2 linked regions of the Homo sapiens genome follow. The protein of the gene in region 1 purifies or fractionates together with the protein of each later gene. This does not show direct contact. Each region holds a gene or a part of one and is shown on either strand. Other genes may lie near its edges. The genes, in order: SMYD4 and ECD.

Evidence for each region.
Region 2: the proteins of SMYD4 (region 1) and ECD purify together in Homo sapiens (affinity purification with mass spectrometry; one large-scale study listed by BioGRID and IntAct). This does not show direct contact.

What each region holds. Positions count from the first base shown.
Region 1 is NC_000017.11:1,784,713-1,788,532, reverse strand, and holds part of SMYD4 (protein-lysine N-methyltransferase SMYD4), read left to right. Parts: intron 1-928; coding exon 929-1,111; intron 1,112-1,559; coding exon 1,560-1,723; intron 1,724-3,820. UniProt on the Homo sapiens protein: Protein-lysine N-methyltransferase. Monomethylates PRMT5, modulating its transcriptional activity. May also act as a histone methyltransferase. Plays a critical role in cardiac development.
Region 2 is NC_000010.11:73,140,505-73,144,324, reverse strand, and holds part of ECD (protein ecdysoneless homolog), read left to right. Parts: intron 1-2,839; coding exon of another isoform or gene 2,840-2,938; intron 2,939-3,820. UniProt on the Homo sapiens protein: Regulator of p53/TP53 stability and function. Inhibits MDM2-mediated degradation of p53/TP53 possibly by cooperating in part with TXNIP. May be involved transcriptional regulation. In vitro has intrinsic transactivation activity enhanced by EP300.

The sequences.
Region 1 (3,820 bases):
ACCTTGTGATCTGCCCGCCTCGGCCTCCCAAAGTACTGGGATTACAGGCGTGAGCCACCGCGCCCGGCCAAAATGAACAAAATTTTAAAGTAAACTATGGGCCTGAAAAGACCAAAAAAGAAAAAAATAATAAATGTTACAATTAGAGTAAAACTTTTTTTAAATTTTTATTTATTTTTCTTCAGACAGGGCCTGCTCTGTCACCCAGGCTGGAGTGCAGTGGTGCAATCCTGGCTCACTGCAGCCTCGCTCTCTAGGGCTCAACTGATCCTCCCACCTCAGCCTCCTGAGTAGCTGGGACTACAGGTGTGCACCACCACAGCTGGCTAATATTTTAATTTTTTTTTTTTAGAGACCAAATCTAGCTGTGTTGTCCAGGCTGGCCTTGAACTCCTGGGCTCAAGCAATTCTTCTGCGTGAGCCTCGGGATTTCAGGCAGGAGCCCTGGTGCCTGGCCTGCTTAAATATATAAAGTTTGGGGTAGTAACTAGGTCGCTTGTTCTGTTAACCAACCAAAGACCAGATAAACAAAAGCCCTTGGGCTCTAAAAGTCTTTGGGAAGTCACCTCAACAGGGGCTCTGGTTTCTATGTGAGAACATTATGAAACTATCTAGAACGCTCCCTACTTATCATCCCTTTTTTATTACTTCTTTATAAGTTCTTATCTTTGGCTATTTCGTGGTGTAGAGACACAGTCGTTAGGTTCCAGGACTCCAGTGGACTTTGTGTGCGTTCATCCACTTTGCTTCCTGGGGACTGGAGCTTGCCGTGAGTCATGTCCCATCTGATTTATATTGGATCTGGCTGTGGAGCCATGACTCACACGGGCTGCAGGCCTAGCTGCCCAGCTCATCTTCTGAGGAACAGAGGGCAAGGCCAGGGCTCATGTGCTGACACCTTTTTCCTTCTTTCCTCTTGCCCTTTCAGGACCTAAAGGGAGCATCGTTACCGACAGCAGGCAGGTGCGCCTTGCCACAGGCATCTTCCCTGTTATCAGCCTCCTGAACCACTCCTGTAGCCCCAACACCAGCGTGTCCTTCATTAGCACTGTCGCCACCATCCGGGCGTCACAGCGGATTAGAAAGGGGCAAGAGATTCTCCACTGCTATGGTGAGCCATCCCTCCGCACTGCCATCCTGCCCTTCTCCAACAGAAAAGGACGGGGACGCAAGTCAGCAAGCCACCAGGCATGTGACTTCACCTGTCTACTGTCTGCTTCCTGGAAGAGGCAGTGAACACTTAGGCCAAAAACAAGGAAGGGAGGATGGAAGGAATGGCCTTCGTGCTAGGGCCCTATTGCGGCTAAACTATGTCTCGCTGTTTAATCACTATAAACTTCCTATTCTGAAAATGGGCTAGGAACAACTTCTTGGCTTCTCTTTCTTCCTGTCTCAGCAACTTGGAAGCTTATTTTAGTATCCAGTTCCACAAATATTTGGGTAAAGGTTAGCTGTCACATGATAGGTAATTGTCCAGACCCTCTGCTAAGCTGAAGGTTTTTACGTAGTGTTTGACTCTCTCTTGCTTTCAATATTGGCTGACGGTGATCTCCCTCCAGGGCCTCACAAGAGCCGGATGGGGGTTGCCGAAAGGCAGCAGAAGCTGAGGTCTCAGTATTTCTTTGACTGCGCCTGTCCAGCTTGTCAAACTGAGGCACACAGGATGGCTGCAGGGCCCAGGTGGGAAGCATTCTGTTGCAACAGTTGCGGAGCGCCCATGCAGGTAATTCTCTCTTCTGTCTCCTCCACTTTTCCTGGAGGTCAGTTTTCCACCCCAAGGGTGATCAGTGTTTAGGAGGAAGCCATCAGGGACTTGTAAGTGCTGAGACCAGTAATATCACCTCCATTTTAGCCAGTCATCCCCATACACTAGTTCCCCTCCAGAGAAACCACAGGGAAAGGTTCAATTTAGTAATGTTTCCTTTATAAAGGACAGAAGATCCCATCTGAACTGGTTTGGGATCTGGGGGAGACTGGGAATTTATTTGCTGAAGTCAGTCATTGAAAAGTCCCAGGATAGGCTGGGCACAGTGACACATGCCTATTATCCCAGCACTTTGGGAGGCTGAGGTGGACAGATCACTTGGAGGCCAGGGGTTCAAGACCAGCCTGGGCAACATAGCAAGACCCTGTCTCTACCAAAAAAAATGTTATGAGAAAAATTCCAGGATAAGGCTGCTTAAGATACAGCTTGATCCAGGGGCTTTCTGTCCACCCCTCTCAGCTTCATTTTCTCTGTGTTAGCCCATCCTCAGATAGACTTCCCTCTTACGATGCAGGATGGCTGCCAGCAGCCCAGCCTGCGGATTTCCTGCCAAGGAGGATAAGAGCACATGCCACTCAAACAGCAGCCTGGGCAGAGATGTTACTGTGTTTCATTGACCTGAGAACTGTGGCTGGAGGAAAATTAGACATAGTTTTCCTCCAGCCATTTGGGCCAGAGGAAGGAGCCATATGTGAGCCACATGCCACACCCTCAGCTGTAGGGCAAGGGCCATGGGACTGAGGGTGAGAGGGATCCTTATGAGAAACTGGGTTGGGTTGCTGTTGCCAAATGAGAAAATAGATATCGGCCTTTGAAACACAGCAGATGTCCACCTCGGAGGTTTCCCCTCTGCCACAAGTGCCGTATTCTTCTTAGGGGAGTCATGAGTGAAAGGCAGAGCCGGTTGTGTTAGAAAGCTAAACTTGGAGACCCAAGGTCAAATGTAGGACGATCGCACCTAGCACCTTTTTCTATTAGTTTTTTTTTTTTTCTTTTTTTTTTTTGAGATGGGGTCTTGCCCTGTCATCCAGGCTGAAGTGAGTGCAGTGGCACGATCTCTGCTTACCACAGCCTCAACCTCCCAGACTCAAGCAATTCTCCTGCCTCAGCCTCCCCAGTAGCTGGGATTACAGGCATGCACCACCATGCCCAGCTAATCTTTGTATTTTTAGTAGAGACGAGTTGGCCATGTTCTCCATGTTGGCCAGGCTGGTCTCGATCTCCTGGCCTCAAGCGACCTACCTGCCTCGACCACCCAAAGCGCTGGGATTACAGGCGTGAGCCACCACGCCCAGCCTTTCTATTGGTTTTCTTTTTTTTTTTTTTTTCTTTTTCTTTTGTGAGACAGAGTCTCTCTCATGTCACCCAGGCTGGAGTGCAGTGGTGCAATCTCGGCTCACTGCAAGCTCCACCTCCCGGGTTCACGCCATTCTCCTGCCTCAGCCTCCCGAGTAGGTGAGACTACAGGCGCCCGCCACCACCATGCCCGGCTAATTTTTTGTATTTTTAGTAGAGACGGGGTTTCACCGTGTTAGCCAGGATGGTCTCGATCTCCTGACCTCATGGATCCACCCGCCTCGCCCTCCCAAAGTGCTGGGATTACAGGCGTGAGCCACCGCACCTGGCCTTCTATTGGTTTTCTGAGGACTTTTTCATAACTACTAGAAATGTTTGTCATCAAGGCCGGGCACGGTGGCTCACGCCTGTAATCCCAGCACTTTGGGAGGCTGAGGCGAGCGGATCATGAGGTCAGAAAATCGAGACCATCCTGGCTTACACGGTGAAACCCCGTCTCTACTAAAAAAAAAAAATAAATAACACACACAAAAATTTAGCCGGGCTTGGTGGTGGGCACCTGTAGTCCCAGCTACTCGGGAGACTGAGGCAGGAGAATGGCGTGAACCCGGGAGGCGGAGCTTGGAGTGAGCCGAGATCGCACCACTGCACTCCAGCCTGGAGACCGAGCGAGACTCCATCTCAAAAAAAAGAAATGTTTGTCATCTAAAGTCCTGGCCCCAAAAAGCGACAAGAGGGGCTATAGAAGTGGAAAGAAAT
Region 2 (3,820 bases), on another chromosome or scaffold:
TGTCTCTCAGTTTAGAATTGTTTTTAGCTCCTACGTATAATATCATAGACTTTCCCCTAATTTATCAGAGATTGTAATAGTGAAAAATTATAAGCAACCAAAGTATCCATCAATAATGGATAAATGAATTGCAGTGTACTTATATGATAGCCTGCTATCTAGTAGTTAACCAGAGATGAACTATATTTACATATATCTGATTTAGGATTTTTCAACCTCAGTGCTACTGACATTTTGGATCTGATAATTTATTGTGAGGGACTGGCTTGCACTTCATAGGACATTTAACAGCATCCCTGGCCTCTATCCAGTAAATATCAATAGCACTTCTCCCTCATCCCCCAATCATGACAACCAAAAATGTCTCCAGACATTGCCAGAGGTACCTGGGCGGCAAAATCGTCCCTGGTTGGGAACCACTGATCTAAATGGGAACCACTGATCTAAATGAATAGATTTCAAAAACATAATGCAGTGAAAAAAAAAAAAAAAGCAAGTTATAAATACGTACAGTAATGGGTACCAAAAAAAAAAAAAAATAGAACGAATGAGTAAGACCTACTATTTGATAGTACAACAGGGTGACTATAGTCAATGATAACTTAATTATACATTTAACATAGAGTGTAATTGGATTGTTTGTAACTCGAAGGATAAATGCTTGAGAGGATGGATACCCCATTCTCCATGATGTACTTATTTCACATTACATGCCTGTATCAAAACATCTCATATACCCTATAAATATATACACCTACTATGTACCCACAAAAATTAAAAATGAAAATGAAAAAGAATAAAATATATACCGTGTGGATGTTACACATATAAAAATTTTAAATATACAAAATACTATACAGGCTGGGCGCAGTGGCTCACACCTGTAATGCCAGCATTTTGGGAGGCCAAGGCGGGTGGATCACGAGGTCAGGAGTTCAAGACCAGCCTGGCCAATATGGGAAACCCTGTCTCTACTAAAAATTCAAAAATTAGCTGGGCGTGTTGGCACGCCCCTGTAATCCCAGCTGCTCGGGAGGCTGAGGCAGGAGAATCGCATGAACCCTGGAGGTGGAGGTTGCAGTGAGCCGACATCGCACCACTGCACTCCAGCCTAGGTGACAGAGCAAGACTCCGTCTCAAAACAAAACAATACATTATTTATAGATACATATATATTCATTTATTCAACAAATATTTATTGAATGCCTCCTATGTGCCAGGCCCTATTCCAGGTACTGGGGATATAATAAATGAACCCAAAGTGTCCTTGTCCTTATAGAGCTTACATGCTAATGTAGGAGAAAGACCGCAAGCCATTATGTAATATTAGGGGGTGGTAAGTGCTATGAAGAAAAAGCAGTGTGTGGGGTAGAGGGGTAGAGACTGCTCTTCTAGATAGATTAGTCAAGGAAGGCCTTTCTAAGGAAGTTTTCTTTGAAAAGAGACCTGAATGAAGTGAAGGAGTGAGACATTCAGTTATTTAGGGGAATAACATTCCAGCAAAAGGACAGACAGCAAATACAAGAAATAGAAACAGAAATATATATACATACAGAGAGAGAGAAAAGTGCCGAAGTATACTTGAGAAAGCAGTCACCTCTGGGGAGCAAGACAATGGATTGGGATGGGTGGCAGTGGTCATCAAAGGAAACATTAGCTTTCTCTACAATTTTTTTTTTTTTTTTTTTTTTTGAGATGGAGTCTCTCTCTGTCACCAGGCTGGAGTGTAGTGGCACGATCTCAGCTCACCGCAGCCTCCACCTCCCGGGTTCAAGCGATGCCCCTGCCTCAGCCTCCTGAGTAGCTGGGACTACAGGCGCGTGCCATCATACCTGGCTAATCTTTTCGTATTTTAGCACAGACAGGGTTTCACCATGTTGGCCAGGATGGTCTCGATCTCCTGACCTGTGATCTGCCCTCCTCAGCCTCCCAAAGTGCTGGGATTACATCTCTACAATATTTTTAAGGTACATGATAAACCTATACACTTTTTTGTCAATTAAAAATAAACAAATAGGCCGGGCACAGTGGCTCACACCTGTAATCCCAGCACTTTGGGAGACCGAGATGGGTGAATCACCTGAGGTCAGGAGTTTGAGACCAACCTGGCCAACATGGTGAAACCCCATCTCTACTACAAATACAAAAAATTAGCCGGATGAGGTGGTGGGCACCTGTAATCCCAGCTACTCAAATTAAAAATAAATAAATAGCCAGGCACAGTGGCTAATGCCTGTAATCCCAGCTACTTGCTGAGATAGGAAGATTGCTTGATCCCAAGAGTCAAGGCTGCAGTGAGCTGTGATCATGCCACGCACTCTAGCCTAGGCGACAGAGTGAGACCCTGTCTTAGAAAAAGAAAAAAAAGAAACTATGCACAGAGATACTTATGTGTTGAGTGAGTGACATAATGGTGACATGATTTGTTACATAAATTGATGGCACCCTGTCTGAACTATTAAGAATGGATCAAATCAAGTTGTATAAAGGACTTGCTTTAATTGGATAAACATTTGCATACCTTGCAAAATCACGTAGGTGATGGGGAACTGTCTCTACTCTGTATTATTAATATGTAAACGTTACTAGGAGAGAGAATAAACCAAATAATCATAACAAAAGGCAAAATAAAAATCATTCTGGAATATCAAATGCTAAAGAGAGTCATAGTGAGAAGGTAATAAACTTTCACTAAGGTTGAAGCAGAGATGTTAAAAAAAGAAAGATAATGGAAGGCTTCAGGGAGGAGGTATTTGAGTTAAGTCTTAAAGAATGAGGATTTTTTTTCTTTTTATGGAGTCTCTTTTTTTTTTGAGACGGAGTCTTGCTCTGTGCCCAGGTTGGAGGTGCAGTGGCGCGATCCTGGCTTACTGCAAGCTCCACCTCCTGGGTTCACGCCATTCATCTGCCTCAGCCTCCTGAGTACCTGGGACAACAGGTACCCACCACCACGCCCAGCTAATTTTTTTTTTTTTTTTTTTTTTTAGTAGAGACGGGGTTTCACTGTGTTAGCCAGGATGGTCTCGATCTCCTGACCTCGTGATCCGCCCGCCTTGGCCTCCCAAAGTGCTGGGATTACAGGCGTGAGCCACCGCACCCGGCCAACGGAGTCTCGCTCTTGTCGCCCAGCCTGGAGTGCAATGGCACAATCCTGGCTCACTGCAACCTCCGCCTCCTGGGTAATACAGACTTTGCAAAAGTTAAAGAACTTCCCTGGGTTCTGGTTTTCTCATCTGTAAAACAGGATTATTACCTTCTATAATAGTAACAAAAGGACTCAATAAGAAAATGTATTTAAAGTGTTAGCATAGCATTTAATACATGCTAGATAAATTTTAATTGATGCTTTCCTTCTGGATCTTCTTTTCCTCGTATATAAAATATATATTATATGTATATTTTTATGTATTTTTAGTACGTGTTTTATATGTATATGTACTATTAACATAATACAACTGTATGTACATATATATACATATATAGAGAGAGACCCTGTCTCTGCATGTATGTATAGAAAGAATTATACGAGATCAGTGGCTTCATAATGATGTTCCATGGAGCCTGCTTCAGAGCCAAAAAGGAAGGCCAATTGTGTAGATCTCTGAGCTTCTATCCTCCAATTTATTTATTTTTATTTTATTTTATTTTATTTATTTATTGAGATGGAGTCTTGCTCAGTCGCCCATGCTGGGGCAGCTCACTGCAACCTCCACCTCCCGGGTTCAAGCAATTCTCCTGCCTCAGCCTCCCGAGTAGCTGGGATTACAGGCACGTGCCACAATGCCCAGCTAATTTTTGTATTTTTAGTAGAGACGGGGTT